2 separate regions of the Homo sapiens genome follow, and region 2 is linked to region 1. Evidence: fine-mapped expression QTL. A gene starts in region 1. The other region holds a variant in brackets. All regions are shown on one strand. Distances are from middle to middle.

Region 1 (10,225 bases):
GTTTACATTACAGAAGGCTTTAAAGTTAAAATTTATCTTTGGGAAATCTTACTTTCATTTTACAAAAATCCTTCCTTTTTGGAAGCCTCCTTACATGAAAGTAAACAAATTTCAATACAAGTTTCTGTGTGTGCAACACATGTCTTTAACCTTCCTGGAACCGGTGACCTGCAACTCCCAACATTCTCATCCAGTTGAAAGTCACATTTACTATGAAACTTAATCTTTAAGGCTATACTCCCTGTGCCTAATTCTTTGTCACTCCTCCTCTCCACGTGGTCCTTTTTTGGGGTTATTCATGTGAGGCAAACATTGGCTAGAATTTACTTTGATTTGCAATACTTTGAGGCACACTAATTTCAGTTAAAACTGGAAAAGAAACTAGTACTAGAGTCCTGTAAATAGATTTCATTATAAACATATACTACTCATGAAAATACAATGCCTGGAGCATGACAGTTACCCCATAAATACTTGAATGTTCATGAACAATCGAGTGGGAAAAAAATTAAAATTCTCCCAGTGGTAAGTCTGTCTTCAGTCCATAGTCGTATAGGTACAGTCATTGTATCACTTCCATTATTGCCTGTATGTATTGCTAGCTTGAACATTTTTATTAAAATGGCCCCTCAGAGCCAGGTGCAGTGGCTCTTGCCTGTAATCTCAGCACTTTGGGAGGCCAAGGTGAGCAGATCACCTGAGCTTAAGAGTTTGAGACCAGCCTAGGCAACAGAGTGAAATCCTGTCTGTCTCTACAAAAAAATTTCAAAAACTAGCCTGGCATGGTGGTGCGTGCCTGTAGTCCCAGCTACTCAGGAGGCTGAGGTGTGAGGATGGCTCGAGTCTGGGAGGCGGAGGTTGCAGTGAGCCAAGATCATGCTACCGCATTCCAGCCTGGGTAAGAGAGCCAGACCTAGGGGGAAAAAAAAAATCATGTTTAGGCCTAGGACTTAAAGGAAAAAAATGGCCCCTGGGGCTAAATGTAGCCAACTTCCTTGAAAAATCAAACAAACCGAAGATTTAACAATTGAAGTGACCATTTTCTCACACCGAATTTAGACAATTCCTCCAAAAGGGCCAAATGTTTGTATATAAGTACAACCTGAGTTTTCTATTATAGTTTTTATCATGTGGGAGTTATCACAGGGACTTCATTTTTCTGCCTTAAAAATGCTGGCAGGAAAAAAAATTAGTCAATTGGGCAGATATATTAGAAAGTGGCTTAGTGTCTTAGAAATAAAATCCAAAAACATGTGTGCTGCACAGATGTATGAGGGTCCCTTTCCCTCCGGGTTCTAGGAGTTGTCTGTAGCCCGTTCACAGAGTAGTAGCAGCCTTGACCCTCTCTCGTTTGCCCACCCTCTTCCAATAGCTAGTGATTTCAGCAACTACCAATTTCGGTATTTCTGCAGGCTCTTCTGAGAATGCTCAAAAACGACAGAATGGCTTTTCAGGCAACCTCCAGAGACTATCTCAGAGAAGAGAGCCTAACTCTGTGCTTGGGCACATGTGGGCTATTTTCCAAGGAACCTCATACACTCCCTGAAGCCCGCAGATTTCAGAACTGGGTTCAGTATACTTCACAATGAAGGATGGGTATTGAGTGTTTGTGCTCTTACCTGAAAATGGCTGCGATGAGTCAGATAAGACAAGAGGTGTCACCATCAGTACCTGGATATTAACTTCTCTTTTCTTTCCTAGGGAATGCAGTCGGATTTTTGGTGAAGATGGTCTGACGCTGAAACTCTTTCTTAAAAGAACTGCTCCCTTTTCTATTCTATGGACTTTGACTAATTACCTTTATTTACTGGCTTTAAAGAAGCTGACGGCCACGGATGTCTCCGCTCTGTTCTGTTGTAACAAAGCCTTTGTCTTCTTGCTGTCATGGATTGTGCTGAAAGACAGGTTCATGGGAGTGAGGGTAATGGCATACTTGATTCAATGCGCGATGCCTGCCTTTTTCATAACTCCTTGGCTTCAGGAGAGCCTGTCTGCTTTGTTTCGTGGAGTTGCTGTAAAACTTTTCTCACTTGTTCTGAGTACAAACCGAAATCTGAAGACGCATTAGAAAGCCCAGGCAGTTGCAACATCATAGAAGGATAAACAGTTTGTTTCCACTGGTTAGTGAGCTCATTCCAACAGGAGGCACTAAAACAGGCAGAGAAAACAAGTTCCTATATTAGAATTAATTTTTAGAACTAATGGTGTGTTCACCTCCTTCTGTCCTCAGGAACGAAGGGTCTGAGAAAATTAGCCACTATAAAGATTATGGTTTGCATTTTTCAATCAACATATGTTGAGATGACCCCCCATTCCCCCCACCAGATGGACTTAATTAATATTGGTGTAAGTAGATAAGATTACCAAACAGTAATTAAAGTCACTGGTAATGGCACAATGCTGTTAAAAGTGACTATATATCTAGTGTGACTAATGCAGAAATGGAAGTACAAGCAACAACTTCTTTTGGATACAAATCCTTAATTGAACTGCATTAAACTTCCACCAACAACTTCAGTTCTGAGTTTATTCCTTTCAGGAGTAATATGGATTAAAAACATATATATTTATATGCTTGTTCTATGTTAAAAATAGATTGCTGGGAAGCCCTGAAGATTTAAGGAGCCAGATCTCATTCATATAATCCGGCATGCCACTATGATGAACATATTGAGACAACACTTCTTTAGAAGGAGGTATAAATGAATTGCCTTTTCTCAGAGTATCAATATTACACAACTTATCTTCTCTGAAAGAGATGTCCAAGATAGATAGAATTTGAAACATATTTTGTTATAAAAACATTGCTCTTATTGGCAATGATTCCAAGGTCCTTTCCCCCTCCCAAATGCTGAAACTAATGTCTATGTTAGAGAGAGGGTTTATGATGGTCATTAACCCTGAAAGATTTTCTTAAGAAAACAGTTAGTTAGACAATTCTGATTGTATCTTGGGAGATGCTGCTCTGAAATTTAGAAATGAAGCTTCATATTAATAAGTAGAAAGTTTTGATAGAAGACAAAATCAGAAACTGTGAGTCAGTCCATGATACCATTACAGTATATCCAAATGTGACACTACATTCTTTACTGGCTTATCTTAGATTTGACCCCAAAGGGCTCAGCATCACATATTTATGTCTGGGGCACTGGTGCTGGCTGTCTACCATCAGATACCCTGACAAGTCCTTGAGAGCTGGAAGCTTTCCTATATTGTCCACTGTTCTTTTCAAGATCTGCTACATAATCCATGGGGCCCAGTGCAAAATGAATATTAATAATTTTAAGATAACAACAACAGAGCACTGAGCCAAGGGTGGGGACCTTCCAAGCACAAGGCCCTATATATCAACATAAGTCATCCCCTAGGAAGTCAGCTGTCTCTACTTCCAATGTCTAGAATATTACAGGGCACGAAGTGGGGGTTCGATTGATATTTGAGGATATAGTAAATGAGTTCATACTTCTGAGATCTTTCTTTTCACTGTCTTTCACTATCATGGACCACCCATAAGAACCTGGAGAGCCTTGTCAGAAGAGGGGAGAAGAGAGATTTGGAGGCTCTTTTGTTCTTTTAGTGGCGTGCAAATACCAACATTAAATCCATATTTTCACCATTAGATATACCAGCAATAAAATCCGTTGTATTAAAGCAAATGAGCACATTTAACTCATGGACCTCACTGATGCAAGAGGTTACGTCCAAAAAGGTACAGTGTTTATTTGAGGTATTTTAGAGAAAAAGAAAACAACTGTGTAACTTATCTTTAAATAGCAGATTTTAAAAATCAAAAATCTGCCTATAGGCTACCAACCATTGCCATTTAAAATTTGCCATCTGCAGTGGGTTGAGTGGTGACTCCAAAAAAGATCTGTCCACATCTTAATCCCCCAAATCTGTCACTGTGACCTTATTTGGATAAAGGGTCCTTGCAGATATTATTAACTTAAGGATCTTGAAAAGGGGACATCATATTGGATTATCTGAGTGGGACCTAAATCCAATAACAAGTGTCCTTATGAAAGACTCACAAAAGAGACACACACAGAAGAGGAGGTGGCGGCAATGTGATCACAGACACAGAGATTGGAGTGATGTGGTCACCAGCCAGGAATGCCGGGACACTCACCAGAACCCTGGAAGAGGCAAGGACTGTATCCTTCCTTAGAGATGCCTTTGGTCCCAGCTGTATTTTGAACTTCTGGCCTCCAGAACCGTGAGAGAATAAATTTCTGTTGTTTTAAGTCACCACGTTTGTGGTAATTTGTTACAGCAGCCTTAGGAAACTAATACAGCATCTGTAATTAATAACACTCAGTAGAGGAAATGTTAAATAGCTAATAAGTACTTGTTAATAAATATATCCATAAGTGAAGACATCATAGATAGCAGAATAGTAAGCATTAGTGTCAGGCATCCTGTAAAAATCAAATATTTTTCTTTTTAAGTAAGAGGAAGTGCTTCACTTCTCATTGTGAAACATTAGGACATGTTCAATGCGATGTTCCGGAAGAATGGTAACGTGTAATTTAATGATGCCCATAATCAGGCCATGGAATGTGAGAAGCACTGAAACATATTCAGCATTTTGCCTTTGACAGTATCAGCAATTATTTTCCTCCCAAGACATATTGAGAACACATATAATTAGGTCATTTGAGAAATTAAACGAGGGCAAACAGCACTGACAACATAAATGTAGCTCTTATTGCCCACATCTATAAATAATCTAAAGCATAGCCCCTCCAGATGTCATCCCACTGGACTACTCAAAAAAAAAAAAAAAAAAAAAAAAAAAAAAAAAAAAAACAGTTAAAGGGATGCTTTCAGTCATCAGATTAAAATTTATATTTCTAGTTCATGCTAAAGCATCAGTAGTTTAGAAACAGATGTTTGTTGGATTATAATTTTCATATGCTTAGCTCCCCAGGAATGAGCACATTTAAAATGAGAAGCTATGGCCTTCCCTACTTCTAATTTTTTTTTTTAATGTAAAAAGAACACCATGAACAGAGTGAAAGACACTTTAAGTTACAACATCATAAATATGGGTTTATCCGGACCACAAGTAGGCCAGAATTACTAATGCTCACATAAAAATGAATTATGTATTATGAATAACTTGCTAATATTTTGTTTCTTTTGAACACTGAATTACAGATGGAAAGGTAATCTGTTTTACATTTAGTATGAAGTCATTTCAGCCCATTTATTGGTAATCTATGATGTGTTATAAAAAGCCCTTTCATGAGCAAATTGCTTGCAGCTAATCTGTGATCATCCCATGAAAATTAGTAAACTTCTTTAAAAGATAATTTTTTGATTGCAAAAATGTTAGAAAGTGATAATCCAGCTCTTGCAGCCTTGAAAATAGGTGTTCTCCTGTCTCTCAGACCTTATTATGTTTAGCTAGAGTTCTTAAATTCGTAAGAACCAGAGAACCCACCTTAATTTTTTTTTTTTTAAAAAAAGGTTCTTCCCAAGGGGAATGTGCCACTGGCTGGGAGCTTTCTTCTCTGCTGTTGGTATCTGTTTTACACCAATGAAAAGTAGATGCCAGACTAGAATGGTAGAAACTTTCTTTCAGATTTTGTCCCTCTCTTATTTTTTTATACTATTCATTCAAATTTTTCTTATATTTTCCAATTTCCTTGAAGATATGGAGAATGTTGGTGGTTGGTGGATGGTTCAGCAGATCCCAACTGTCTTAGCAGACTGTGAAATGCATTAGTGTCCCTCTGGCTTGGGAGCCACATATTTTCCAGCTATATTTGGGTCCCTGTGCAGTTAGTTAGCTTCCCAAACTATAGCTGTTTTCAAAGACTTTCCAGGATCTACCAAAAACTGACTGAAGTACATCAGTTAAACTGAATCTTTCATGGTATAGCATATACTTCTTTGAATTCAAATTGGGCCCCTGAAGGCTAAAACAGTACATTGGAGCTGAGCTGCTACTGATTTATGCTGATATTAAATATTAAGAATTAAGATGACACGTAACTTGACAATTTGTTTCCATCTTGCCTTTGGCTCCTCTTTATTCATGTGCAATGCAGAATTCTCTGCCCAGAGCTTCCATGCTTCCTGGAAGAGGCAGTGGAGGATGGACAGTGGGAGTCATCCTCCCTCTTACCCCTATCTTGGCAGGACAATGACTTATGAATATAGCCAAGAGAGGAGACAGCTGGGTTGTGCTGGCTGTCCGATTTTACACCCTCAAGGAATCTGTAACCCCTTCAACATGGTGCAGTCAATGTGTCTACCCTCCACATATATCCTTCACTCTTTCTTCGTGGGATTTCTTTACAACTTTGACATCCAGGTCTCCCTCTGAGATCATTTTCAAATGGATTTTATTCAGATAAAAATCCATGCATGTAGGGAGAGGGGGAGTTCAGAGGCCCAGCATCCCTTGGGTTTGCTGCTATCCAAGGTACCCCCCTTCCCCCTGTCACACACAGCATCTGGACAGCTATAGATTGCCACACCTCTTATTTTTCACATTTCAGCACTTGTTCAGTTTAATTGAATCTGAGTAAAAAAGAAAGTTTTCCATAGAACCTTAAATATAACATATGCAGAAGTTTAAGGATTCTGTATAGCCATAGTTCCTTGAAAATCAACTGTATCTAAATTTACCCAGAGAGATAATCATTAGCATGTTTCTCATTCGTCAAACTATTAATGTGTGTCCCAACCTCAACTACTGACCTTTAGTCTTCAACTTGAGCACAGCAGCTGCCAGCAGTGTGGTCTGAGATCTGCATTTTTAGGGGCTGCTGTAGGCTTTGGAATTCAAGGGTTCATTTGTGAACCAGCTGCTTCATACTCACCTAGCTTCAAGAAACAGAATTAGCCTCAAGGCAAAGTAAGGAAACATGTTTGGATTATAATCAGTCATCTTGACCTTTAAAATCTTAAAGGAACACTGTAGGAAGAGAAGCAACTAAAGGTTCATCCAATGCCTTGGACCCTAAAAGAGCTGGTACTGTTATGCAAATAAGAATTGTGAAAACCATCTGTGAGTGGGAACCATAGTGAATGGGATCAGGTTGATAAACCCTCATGGAGATGCACAGAAGGACCAAACCTTTGTGGGCTTTTGATGGCCCGAGCCAAAAGAGAAAAAGAAAAAAGAAAAAAAAAAGATACAAGAAAACAAAAACGGCCAAAAGCCAGATATTTCTTTAGGCTTTATCTGTACAAACTAATTATTTGAAAGATAAAAGAAACACCCTCCATGCAGGGTCACAGGTAGCATTTAGTACAGTGAGATCACCAAATGTCCACTGGTAAAGCCCTCTTTGGGCTTTAGGAACAGGCTCAAATGGCCACACGGATCCCTTCTGATTGGCTCTGAAAATTAGTGCAGAGAGCTGTCTGAGGGCCCCAGCCTGCAGAGGAAGATAGCTGGCTCACGAGGCCATGCCACTCAACTGGCATGCTGAGATAATGGGCTAAATAAATCCTCTTCCTTCAATGACTCACCCCAGGTGGGCACACCACAATGTGTGAGGGCAGAGAGGTTTAAACATTTTAAATGGAGGCATTGGCAGTTTTATGGTCACTATGGTTACTAACATTCTCACCTAAGCCAGGTTCAGATAATGGTAATGGTGAGTTTTTTTTTTCCCCATCTTTTTTGTTTGTTTTTGAGACAGGGTCTAATTCTGTTGCCCAGGCTGGAGTGCAGTGATGTGATCTCAGCTCACTGCAACCTTCACCTCCCAGATTCAAGAGATTCTCCTGCCTCAACCTCCCGAGTAGCCGGTATTACAGGCATGTGCCACCAAAGCACGGCTACTTTTTATATTTTTAGTAGAGATGGGGGTCTCGCCATGGTTGGCCAGGCTGGTCTCGAACTCCTGACCTCAAGTGATCCACCCACCTGGGCCTCCCAAAGTGCTGGAATTACAGGCGTGAGCCACTGTGCCTGGCCTAGTTTTCCATCTTATTTAGACACTTCTGGTTGGTTAAGAGGCTGGAACTGGAATAGATTGTCAAGAGACAGATTTTTCAGAAGCCGAGCAGGTGGCACCACTAGATGGTGTATTTTCAGCAGAAGAATTCCTCTCATGGATGTTAATGTGTCCCAGGAGCACTTTAGTGGTTGTCTTCATGTGAATGAACACATATGAGCATTTTTGACACAATATTTTAGGCACTGGCTTCCTGCAGACACATTTCCAGAAAGCTGAGGCCAAGAAGAGTCGTTTTGTGTTTTTCTGTTGAGAAGAACAGAGTATTAATCCCTCTTTGATGACTGATTGATTCTGAAAATGTGTGTGACTGATACGTGCTTAGGATATTTGTTCTCCAGACATCTAAAGAGTATTTACTCTCTAAAGTTAAACCAGTGGTGCCAAGCAGAGCCATTCTGAGATCACCCAAACAACCACTCCACAATTTTTCCTCATTTTCAAGATTAGTTGAGATCTCTTCCTTCACTTACAACAGTATAGATAAGAAATATATTTAAAATTTCTTAAAATATAGCCATAGAGAATTTGACCTATCAGATATTTTTGAAATTTAAACTAAAATGTGGCAAATAATTTATCTATTCCCACTATACCCTCCACCCGCACCCTGCCCCAGGAACATACTATATAACTTATGAATTACTGCTCATGTCATGGAGAATTTTTCTAACATTTCAAATATTCAGATTTTCATTCTTTCAGAACTTAACAGCATTGTCTGACCCCCTAAAGTGAAAAATGCTTCTCTCTGTGAAGGCAATTGAAAGAGACACTGCTGTAATTGACATGTCAATTTAAGTGGTCCAGGCTAATATTTTCACAAGCACTTGAATATAACGAGTAATGAAGATCTTTAAGAGGCTCACTATGGTTATAATTTTGAATTGCTACAGAGTTATGTAATCTTTACCCATGTTCAATTCCTATCTTGAGGAAACATAATAGAAACTTTATGCATATCTATTTTTACTAGTAGCTAACTCAGAAAAGGAAGAGTTCCTACCTGTGGTCATATCTTGGGGATAATGAAACCAACTGCCTGTCCTTTTCTAGACAGGATTTTGTTTTGTGCTTTGGGGTTTTTTAATTGGTTTTCACAATTTTCTAAACCCAGAATTACATACTACAGTGTGTAATTGCCTAAACCCATGTATTATGTATTATAGAATGCTTTTAATAATTTAAAATATAAAATAGCACATCATGTGAAAGTTCGTTAGGATTTACAGTTTTGTTAGCCTTGGCTTCAAGTAACCGCTTGTTTATTTGACCTAGAAAATGCAATGCTTAGCTAAAAGAAAACAAACGTTAACTCAAATGTATTATCCCGTCAGTTCAGTCTTATGAAGGAAATCTATTTGTGCACATGAACACTAACCAGTGAACATCATTTAAACACAAAACCAAATCAGGATATGCCAATATCTAATGTGCCTTTTTTATTTCCCTGAAATCAGATCCCCCAAAGAACTGTTGCAAATCCCCAAATCAAGGAAAATGATAACCCTCATAGAATTTCCAGGTCTAGATAACCCCCTCACTGTGTGTATTGATGAGTCTAGACCTTTATCCAGGTCTAGATAACCCCCTCACTGTGTTTATTGATGAGTCTATTACTTATTATTTAGAAATCTCCTTGACACCTAAATTCTTAAATTCTATTCCTTATAGTTTAAGGCCAAGTCTAACCAGAACACACACCCGGCAGCTTCAGAGAATATGATATTCACTCAGCAAGAAAACCACCTCCCATCAAGCAGCCTCCTGGATAATGTTTAATGAAGATGGTTTTTCACTGCTGACATGTCTATGTCTATTCTCAAGTACTCCTGCTGTTTTTCATTAAGGACACTTTAATATGGAGCTACTCTGAAACCAAGTGGGCCCTTGCTTTTGGTGGCCACTAACAAAAGACATGCTTTAGCAGCGTCTGAATTCTATGTAATTGGGAACATACTTTGCAGTGGCCTCAAGCGAGTCAGTAATTACATGTTAAAAATCTACGTTATAAAAAACAATTCACTAATAGTGTTCAAAAGGGCCCCCGAAAATCACATATGTTAAAAAGCTATCTTTACTTGGGAATTTCTTTACTGGGAATACTCAGAACTGAAGAATTTCTTTACTTGGGAATACTCAGAACTGAAGCTTAACAAAATTAATCACCATGTAGGTTTAAATTTCTCACCAATTTTCATCTGGATTTTAAAGTCAGTGAAACCATTTCACAAGGAAATGACATA
Region 2 (10,225 bases), 170 kb after region 1:
GACTAAAACTATTTCATTATAACCCCCATATTGCATAGTTTAAATAGTAGTATTAGAAGATAAATTTGGCACTTCAGTGGTCTTTGTTATTTCTAGGTCTGTTTCATATTGAGATTAAACACTGACTTAATCCCCAAAGTAATGCATGTTTTGAGCTCTTTCCTCAACAGTGTTAACAGGTTGTACCAAGCCTGGCACTGTCTTTGTGTCCAGGTGTTTACTATGCCTATTTCTGCTCTTTTGATGAACTACACTTACCAGATGACCAGCGAGGGTCAAAGGTAATACACTGCGGTGATGGAAGGCAGAAAAATTAATCTGGTTCTTCTAGAAGTAACATTGGCCTTTGGCCTCATCCCCATAAGTGGATCTTGGAGGTTAAAAACATGATAGACCTCCATGTTCCAACTTGACCACTCATGAGATGACCAATCTCATTTAGAAGTGAAATGATTTCAAATTCATCAAAAATGAGAAATTATTAGAGCCAACTATACAAATATTTTAAGGCTAAAAAGGTAAGTCTCATCAGAAACAACTTTTGGCACTTGAATCTGCATCTCTGCAACCCAAGGAACTTCCAACAATAAAATCTGAAAGGGCTGCTTTTCTCAGAAAGGCTACATAACAAGGGCAGTGGTTGGTGGGGTGGAAAGTGGTCAAACACTGTATTAATGAAATATATTGTCAGTATAAACAGTTCAGCTATACTCTTGCTCAGAGGTAATTTTTAGTTGTGTTATTTTAAAAGATTTTTCAGAAACAGTCTTGCTATGCTGTCCTGGCTGGTTGCAAACTACCATCTCAGCCTCCCAAAACGCTGGGATAATAGGCGTGAGCCACCACATCTGGCCTAATTGTGATCCTTCCATTTTATCTTTCAACCTATACAAACACTCCCTTCCTGTTATTACTGCTTATCTAAAGCTCTGCTGTCCAATACAGTAGCCACAAGCCACATGTGGCTAACTTTGATTAAAATTACAAATTCAGCTCAATCATCCCACCCACACTTCAGGGGCTCAGTAGCTACACATGTGACTAGTAACTACCATACTGGGGAGTGAAAAGGACACATCTATCCTTATATAAAGTGTGACTGGACAGTAGTGATCTAAAGTGTAGCAGTGCTATATGCTTATGAGATCTTTTAAAAAACTTTTTAAAAGTTGCTTATAAAAAGAATATCATAGGCTGGGCGTGGTGGCTCACGCCTGTAATTCCAACACTTTGGGAGGCCGAGGCGGGCAGATCACTTGAGGTCAGGAGTTTGAGACCAGCCTGGCCAACATGGTGAAACCCTGTCTCATACTAAGAATACAAGAAATTGGCTGGGCGTGGTGGCATGCACCTGTAGTCCCAGCTACTCAGGAGGCTAAGGCACAAGAATTGCTTGAACCCAGGGGGCAGAGGTTGCAGTGAGCCAAGATTGTGCCACCGCACTCCAGCCTGGGCAACAGAGTGAGACTCTGTCTCAAAAAATAAATCTAACACCTCTGGGCTACAGGTTAATACTGATCTGTGTTTACTGGTGTGAAAAAATGGTATCAACCTTCTGGTTCTTATTTAGACCTTAGAGTGAATTTATGAAGTATTTCGAGTTCCACATAAGGCCCAAATAAAACAAACTCAGATACTTTTACAGTATTACTCTAAAGAATAATGTAAAGATTTGGCATGCATGATAAAAGTAATTTAGCAGTTAAATGATTAAAACAGATCATTTCATCCTTCCACTAAAATCCGAAAATCTTGACATACAGAAGTATTCACAGCTATTTAAAGCTCCTCACAAGACAGGGGCAAAAAGCTCTTTGGATATTGCTCTATTTTACTTTGGTGTCTTACCAAGGGTGGGATGGGGTGGGGGGAACATTACAGAGTGGCAGTGTACAGACAAAAAAGTAAATTAAAATAAAAACTGTCTTAGAAATAAACTGCTATGAAACAGACTAAAAAGATAAACTTTTGACTGAACACATGGAAAATGTACCGATAACTGACATATGAGTTGACTGAGTACTTTTAGAAAAATCAAGTTCATGTTATTTTCAAATTTACTTTGTCAGAACACACAACAGTGATGACAATTATGTAATACTTCTTCCCCGTAACTCTTAGATGAAAGGCAGGAAGCGGGAAACAATATATTGTTTGTTGCTGTTTTACTTAGTAGGTAAAAGCAAAACAACCCAATCATAAAATGCACACAGCTGTATCTAAAAGAAAAATGCAAACACAACTTAACCATACTTTATTTGACTGCATCTTATTTAGACAGCTTGCACATTTCAAATCCCATTAAATCTCTCTCCAAAAGGATATGGGACAATAGAAGAAAATTATGCAGCAATATCCAGTCAAACAGCAGTCCAATATTTTGAGATACACGTGATATTTTATAGATACTCAACTCATATCTGACGTCAATATAATTTATGGTTATGTTTTTACAAACCTGAAAGCCCTGTAACATTACAGCACTCATTTTAGTGATGTCATGGTGCACTGAAAAGTAACTCTGATGTACTACCAATTTGATTTTATCTATACTCCTGAAAAGTGATGAACTTCATGATTTTTAGACACCATAATAAATATACACATCCAGTCTTAGACATGTCAGCCAGTACCATAACACAGGGCAAGGTAAAGTTAAAACATGAAAAAACAAACTGCTTTACATAGATTTGTCGAGCAAGTGGGAAGGGTAATTTGGGAAAGAGGCAGAAAATATTAAAATCGATTTTTTATTTTTTCTTATTTTGCTGGTTTCAACTTCAAAAACTACCGTCTGGTTTCTGATCTGTGGACTTTGCTAAAGTAGTTTCATCCCAATGTACAGGAAATACAGGAAATTATAATCAGCCCACACATCAAAAATGATAGTATACCCGTTAGCTTCTTCAATACTAACATATATAGCTTCATGGTAGCATGTATAAAAATGTTCAGCAGTACCAACTGCCAAACCAGTGTCAGTGGATAGTACAGTCAGTCCTAAAGAGGCAGCACCCCATTAAAAGAAAGTTGCATCTATTTTGCTCAGTTGTAGCCAAGTGAACCCATGCTACCAATTTCAGATAGAATTGTTTTAAGCTTATTTAAGAAAAACAACAGCCTATTATCAAAAAGTAAATTACTGTTTGAGGCTACTTCAACCTGAATGGAGTCTTTCAGTGTTGGTGCTGGGTTTTCATGCTAGAGGTTAAAATTTTAATCTACTTAAGTAAAAATTTTTTTGCATACCCAATTAAAGACATAAGGCATACACTGACATTCAACATATTCCAAACAATATGGCAACCATCTGACTTTTTAGTCACACAGTTAACGTCATCTTTACAAACACCCAACCAGTTCAGTCAATTTGGCAATTTTGGAGGAAAAGGTCAGTATGATGGTTTCATTGACAATCTGGCAAAAACACTAAAATGGTTGAACCAATGATCTATCTACTTTACAACCATCCCTATTAGTGATTTAAGCAAATATATGTTCATCAACCATTATGTATCAACCAGCAAGTCAAATATAAAGAAGTGAAATAAAATTTGATGACATAAATGTTTTAGTTCCATTTCCTTCATATTAAATAACAAAAGCATCACTGTGATTGGTATTCTTCTAAATGCTAGTGCCTAAATGAAGTTTGACCAAAAACATATTGAAAGGCTGAGTACTGTGTGGTTACCATATTTTTATTATAACCAGTATTGTATTCTGCTCATTAAACTTTCAAGAGCAATATAAAAAGGAAAACATTTTCTTTAAAAATAAAGAACTATAAATAATCCCACCAGCAGAAAGTTTTTATTTTCAAATATAAATTGTGTATCTTTATTTTTAAAGTATTTGTTACTATGTTCACTTTCAAAACACTATACTGAGCAAAGAGCAGCTTTCCTTTAAAAAAAAAAAAAAAGCAACAAACTTTCCTGAAAAGGGGCCTTTACCAACTGTTAATGGAGGTAGGGTTTTTAAAAATACAGTAATTAGAGCCACAAAATATATTCCAAACCAAATACTAGAGCAGAAGTAGAGCATATTCAAATGAAAACAACAACAGATTCCTACAGTTTTCACAGAGAATGAATCTTTTTTCTTATGGGTACCTAGGTTTTCCAGTTAAATAAATTATCTATCACAGGTTTACTGACTCAATTGAAAGCAATTAACTGTAAAATTTGTTACATTGCACTGATTGGCCAAAACACAATGTAACTAATAAACATGGTGGCTGTTAAGAAAACCCACAGAACTCATTCCAAAAAAGATTTTCATTTCCCCCTTTTGTTTTTCTGGCAGAAGAAAAGCAAAGCTCCCCCAAGAATTTGCTCATACAAGTGAAAATAAAATAAAGCAGCTTAAAATGGATACAATGCACCTTGAAATTTATTTCCAAGACCAAGAACCTGAAGTGAAGCATTTTAAGAAATGAAAGCAATGTGAATCCAAATCAAGTGGGAAAAACAAATTCAGCTACTTTGTAAAAGCTGTTCTTCGCAGCGTAGCAGTAATTTTGATTAAATAAAATCATATCAACTTACACTAATTTTCTATTCTTTTCCAAAACTTCCCTTACTCTCAAAAGAAAAAGTGCATCTAAACCCCAGCAATTCCCGGCTCCATCAACTTTTCTTATCTCTTTTGAGCCATTTCTCAATTTTCCAAGTAGATTCAACTTGTTACTGTAAGGAAAAAGGGACTTCTAAAGTAAACCATTCTTTCATTCACCTGAAAAAAGTATCCAAATTATAAAAATCTGAAATAATTTATCAAATTTAGAATTTAAATAAAAACAAAAGTTTGCTTGCAAAGGCCTTAAAGAAAAGGAAAAGATAGCATGCATTCAAAAACTAGAGATGAAGACAAATATACTTATCTACACAGGCACTGGCAGACAAAATTTAATTGTTACCTTTACTCATTGTAAGACATACCCACCCTACATTTTTTTCATTCACTAATCACTGAGGTACCAATATTCAAGAATGGAAAATTTAATATTGAAAAAATAAAACCTAAAACTGAAGCGTCTCCCTCACCCACTTCAGAAAACTAGGGCAGGTTTTGTGTGAAATGTTAGTATACTTAAAGACTTTTACAATCCACATTGGCTTTTTTAAGGAACAAAAATTATGTTCCACTTACTGGTTCTGTGATAAAATGATCACTGTGTAAATAACATTGTCAGCAGACTTTGCAAATGAACACATAAATCTTGGCTATCAACTGGCACATCTTGTTGGTACCAAAAGAACTCCTGAAGTTTAAAACAATCTTTTAATTCAGAACAAATGTGCCATGCCAAAGTGCAACAAATATTGTGCGACACTCAATGAGACACTGACAGGTAAGAGCTGCATGGAAATTACTAAATCCACCTGCAAAGCAATTCTGTACAAATTGCATTGCATGCAAAGGTCGATTCTGTG[C/T]GGATGATAGTTGTTCCTTGATGTCAGTTTCTCAACGCAGCCACAGTTTAAGTCGCAGTGCATCAACTCCATTTAAATAGTATCTGAACAGCCTCTTATCTCGAACAAAACCAAGATTTTCATAAAGTTTCAAAGCGGACTTATTTGTTATTTCGGTTTCCAAAACAACCTTCAAAGAAATGAGAAAAAAACTAAGTTATAATTACACAATTTAAAAAATAATTTACCAACTAAACAATTTTTTAAAAAATCATACATTATTTTAAAAATTGATAGTGAAAACAATAAATAATATACAGAAAGAACTCAAAAACAGTCATCAAGATTGTAATATTATATTTGGGTCAAGGGCTTGGAGGACCACTGCAGATTTATCTTCTGTTCTACTGATTTGTGTAGTTTGAAATGTTTAGCAATGAGAGTATGTTTTATACTAAAACAAAGATTAATTATTTCCCTGTGGGGAAAGGTAAAATGACTACAGATGAAAATAAAATCAACAATCAAAAGTGCTGGTTTATTTCCTTAAAATAATAAGCTATATTATTATAAGCAGCTATTCAGATTGACTTCCAACTTCTGTATTTTCATTAATATGTCATTTATTCTGGCAATAACTACCATATTTGTCTGGAGTCTCGACCAGAGTCTGCAAACTATAGACTTTGGGCCAAATGTGCCTGCTGTTTTGTAAATAAAGTTTTAGTCAAACAGCCATGTTTATTTGTTTACATGATGTCTGTGGTGGCTTTCTCAATACAAGGGCAGAGCTGAGCAGTTGCCACAAAGACCTATGGTCCACAAAGCCTAAAATAATTACTAGTGGGCCTTTTACCAAGAAAGTTTGCTGAATCCAGACAAGAGGTATTCAAAATGTTACAGTGTATCATAATCACCTGAAGGGTCTGTTAAAATAGATTGCTGAGCCCCACCCTCAGAGTTTATGAGTACGTTTGCAGTAGGACACAAGAATCTGCATTTTTAATATTTTTAAATTGCTAGATGATGATGTTGCTGCGGTCAAGGGACCACATTTTGAGAACCACTGGTCTATATAGCAAAGCTTAACAGAGGAACACATAGTATTAACTTTCATTTAAGTCTTTTGAAATATTACTGAGCCAGTGGCCCTGACAATGAATAACTGGTATTTTTGAAAACTGCGATTTTATTTTTACCTCCCTCTAACACCCTCTACCCCATCTTCCCAACTTTTACACACGTAGCTCTATTTGCCTTTTCAATTGTTTCTCAACTTATTTCATTGAGAACTATCAACACAGTGAGCCACAGTTACTATTGGGTGTCATAACCCTCAAGTGTTTGGAGTGGGTGGGGGGGAAATGGCAAAGTATAATTAAACAAAGGCCCAAGTGAAGCATAAGTCTCTTCCTGTTCTTTCTCAAGCTATCAAAAAGTCTGACAAGAATGCAAACAACTGATGCAAATAATAAAGACAGTACCTCAACTTATATCCAAAATTGAACTCATAATCTGCTCTTCCTCCTCAATTCCATATCTCAGTAAACAGGATCACCCCCCACCACACCAATGCCTCAAACCTGAAACCCAGGAGTCATCTTTGAACCTCATTCCTCTCCAACCACCTATATGCATCCAAGCACTGATTATTGTCAATTCTCCCTCTTAAATCTCTAAGTGGTCCTCTTCTTTCTATGCTCGATATACCACAGTCCAAGCTGCCATCAACTCTCACTATAATTACAAGAGCCTCCTAACTCAAGAGGTCTCCCATTCTCTCTAGAGTTAGGGTGATGCTCTTGTTAATTCTCTACTTAAAACCGTTTACTGATTCCCTCTTGTCCTCAAGAGAAAGTCCACAATCTAAAAATAATATCAAGAGACATAAAAAGTCCATCAATATATTGGCCTCAGCTTTGCTTTAGGTCTCTCTCTTCTTGCTTTCCATGCTCAACACTGAATTTTCAGTTTCTGGAACCCACCATGATCTTTCCCACCTTAGAACATTCAAATAAACTGTTTTCTGTCTAGAAGAATGCTCTTCCTATCCTCCTCTCTTTTGGCCCTACCTTGTCACTTCTGGATTGGGTACAGTGCCCCTTTCCTTTTATATCACCCAGCAACATTCTGCACCGTTCCTATGACACATTCTTATTCAACATTTGATGAGTGGTATGTCATCTCTCCTAGCTGGTAAGCCCAACAACAGCAGGGACCAATGCTAAATCTAAACCTTTAAAAGATCTAAAATGAAGTAATTAACAGTTCAGGATCAAGAAAACACGCTCCTAAGAAAACCTAAAATACAAGTTGTACAGCAAACAAATTGGTTTAAGTAAACGTCAATTTCTCTCTGCACTTAAAAAAAACACAATTTGGCCAGGTTTGGTGGCTCATGTCTATAATCCCAGCACTTTGGGAGGTCAAGGCAGATCACTTGAGCCCAGGAGTTTGGGACCAGGCTAGGCAACGTGGTGAAAGCCCATGTCTAAAAAACCTTAAAAATTAGCCAGGTGTGGTGGTGTGTGCCTATAGTCTCAGCTACTTGGAGGGGCAGAGGTGGGAGGATCACTTGAGCCGAGGGGGTTGAGGCTGCAGTGAGCTGTGAGTGCACCACTGCACTCTAGCCTGGGTGACAGAGCGAGACTCTGTCTCAAAAAACAAATTAAAATACTCACACATACACACACAGACATAATTAAATTTCTAGTAACGTATGTCATACTAGAGTCTGTAACACCACAGTCTGGTCAATACAAGTTTTTAGTTTTTAACAATTCTCTTGGGTAATTCCTGCAATTGTTATGAGGTCCAGCACCTAATTATAGCTAAAATGTTGAATCAAAGCAATTTAATATGAGAAACACTAAAGTCACAACAACTCAAAACTTGGAATTGATTTCACGTAAATAAAAAGTGACAATTTTAAAATATGACAGCTAATATTTATTGGAGCTGTACTATGTGCAATGTAAAGCATTCTATATGTATTATGTAGTTTTATTTTCACAATAACCCTATGAAATTGATGTGGTTATCCATTTTACAGATGAATAAAACTCAAGGCCACCAACAGAGCAAGGACAGAACAGAGTCCAATTATGAACTAAAGCTTAATAGTAACTACTCTACTGTACCTCCCCCTCATTTCCCAAAGTAAAGCAAAGCAGTGACTGGGAAATCTAACCTACTTAAGACAAGATGAAATGGATTTTAAGTCCACCATCAATATTTAGCAATCTAAAATATTCCAAACACATCTGAGGCTACCACCACTACACAAATACACACTTAAAGTGTGGTTAAGAACTGAGTTCAAGTTTGTTTGCATCCTAATATATTAATGAAATGAAGCTCAATTACATAGAAAAAAGTTACACCAATGTCTAATCTAGTCAAAATGTAAAGATTCTCCTGGCACACTCATATTTTCTAAACAAAGAGATTCTTTCTTTAGAAAATTATTTGACACAACAGAAAAATGCCAGGATAAAGTAACTAATTTTTAATTCTTAAATTCTTATAAACATATTAAAAGAATATCTGAATTTATATTAGAAATTCACCATAAAATGAAGTTATTTTGGTCCTAAAGAAACTTGACAGAGTTGAATTCTACCTAACAGAAAAAAAAATTACAGTGAAATTCCACCGATCCTCTTAGCAACAGTAACAGATCATTATCAGGATAAGCCAAACCATTACAAAACATTACTGCTTAAGATAGTATTTTTTAATACTGTAGGCTGGAAGCTCCTGGAGAGCAGGCTTGTTCACTGCTAGAACTTTAGCACTACCACACTGTCTGGCACCTAGAAGCCCTTCCACTGCTATTTCCTGAATGAACAACAAACAGTACTGCTCTTCACAACGTATCTTTAAGATCAGAATTAACATCATGTTGCATAGACAAAGAGAGAGACCAGAAAAAGTTAAATGGCCTGCCTACAATCACACAACTGCCAAGTGACAGAAGATAAATATGGAAACCAGGTGTCTCATAATCAGTTATTAGGCCAAACTACTCACCCAAAATCCTTGCAGCTTAACTAACCCCACTGTATTCTGTTCTTTACCTTGCAGGCTCTATCACATAGCATAATGTTTCCAGTGAAACTAAAGATGTTTTATATATATATATATACACATATATATTATTAGTAAATACATAATAAACACAATAAATATAGTCTAATTAAAAAGATAAAAAGTAACCTTTTATAATGGGGGAAAAAGAATGACTGTACCTTTTCTAAGTTGGACTTTTCTAATTTAGAAAAGTATAAGTTATTTCAAAAAATAACTTAGATCTTCTTGGCTCCTAATAATCTAATTTACTCATTAGTGCTAATGTGATCTATTTTATTCTTTTAATTGTACAAAATAGAGTCAGCTACTATATTATCTAAAATTTACCAAAATGTCTTTTGCATTACCTTTATATTGCTAGAAATAAGTAGCATTAAGTAGGTCAAGCAAATCAGGTTGCAGGGAAAGTCATGGGTTTGAATAGCAGATTGTAAACAGTCTGCCGCAAGTTACATGGCATACTATTTACAGAAGAAACTGTCTAGTAAAAATAAATGTACGCAACAAAAAAAGAATGGAAAGAAAACACCAAATTGGATGTGTGATACTGTTTGGCTGTGTCTCCACCCAAATCTCATCCTGAATCCCCATGTGCTGTGGGAGGGACTTGGTGGGAGTCTCTAAATCATGGGGCAAGTCGTTCCCGTGCTGTTCTCGTGAGTGAATTAAGTCTCACGAGATCCGATGGTTTTAAAAAGAGGAATTCCCCTGCACAA

Evidence for each region. PIP is the estimated chance that this variant, and not a neighbour inherited with it, causes the effect.
Region 2: its variant is fine-mapped to the expression of SLC35F4-AS1 in whole blood (TOPMed, PIP above 0.99). The same link has a PIP of 0.9 or more in blood mononuclear cells and lung.

Annotation. Positions count from the first base shown.
Region 1 is chr14:57,572,910-57,583,134 of GRCh38, reverse strand. It overlaps SLC35F4-AS1 (SLC35F4 antisense RNA 1), which reads right to left and starts at 4,802. Exons shown (of 2, transcript XR_007064193.1): 1 at 4,130-4,802; 2 at 1-2,148. SLC35F4 (solute carrier family 35 member F4) reads left to right here. Exons shown (of 8, transcript NM_001306087.2): 4 at 1,702-1,921. LOC105370519 (a long non-coding RNA gene) reads right to left here. Exons shown (of 5, transcript XR_007064194.1): 4 at 7,889-10,225; 5 at 4,855-6,837. RefSeq lists an enhancer at 696-1,895.
Region 2 is chr14:57,404,761-57,414,985 of GRCh38, reverse strand. NAA30 (N-alpha-acetyltransferase 30, NatC catalytic subunit) reads right to left here. Exons shown (of 5, transcript NM_001011713.3): 5 at 1-5,607. The coding sequence ends at 5,470. Among named protein-coding and RNA genes, the nearest start is that of NAA30, 19 kb to the right of the region's middle. The variant C/T (reference allele first, on the strand shown) is at 5,439.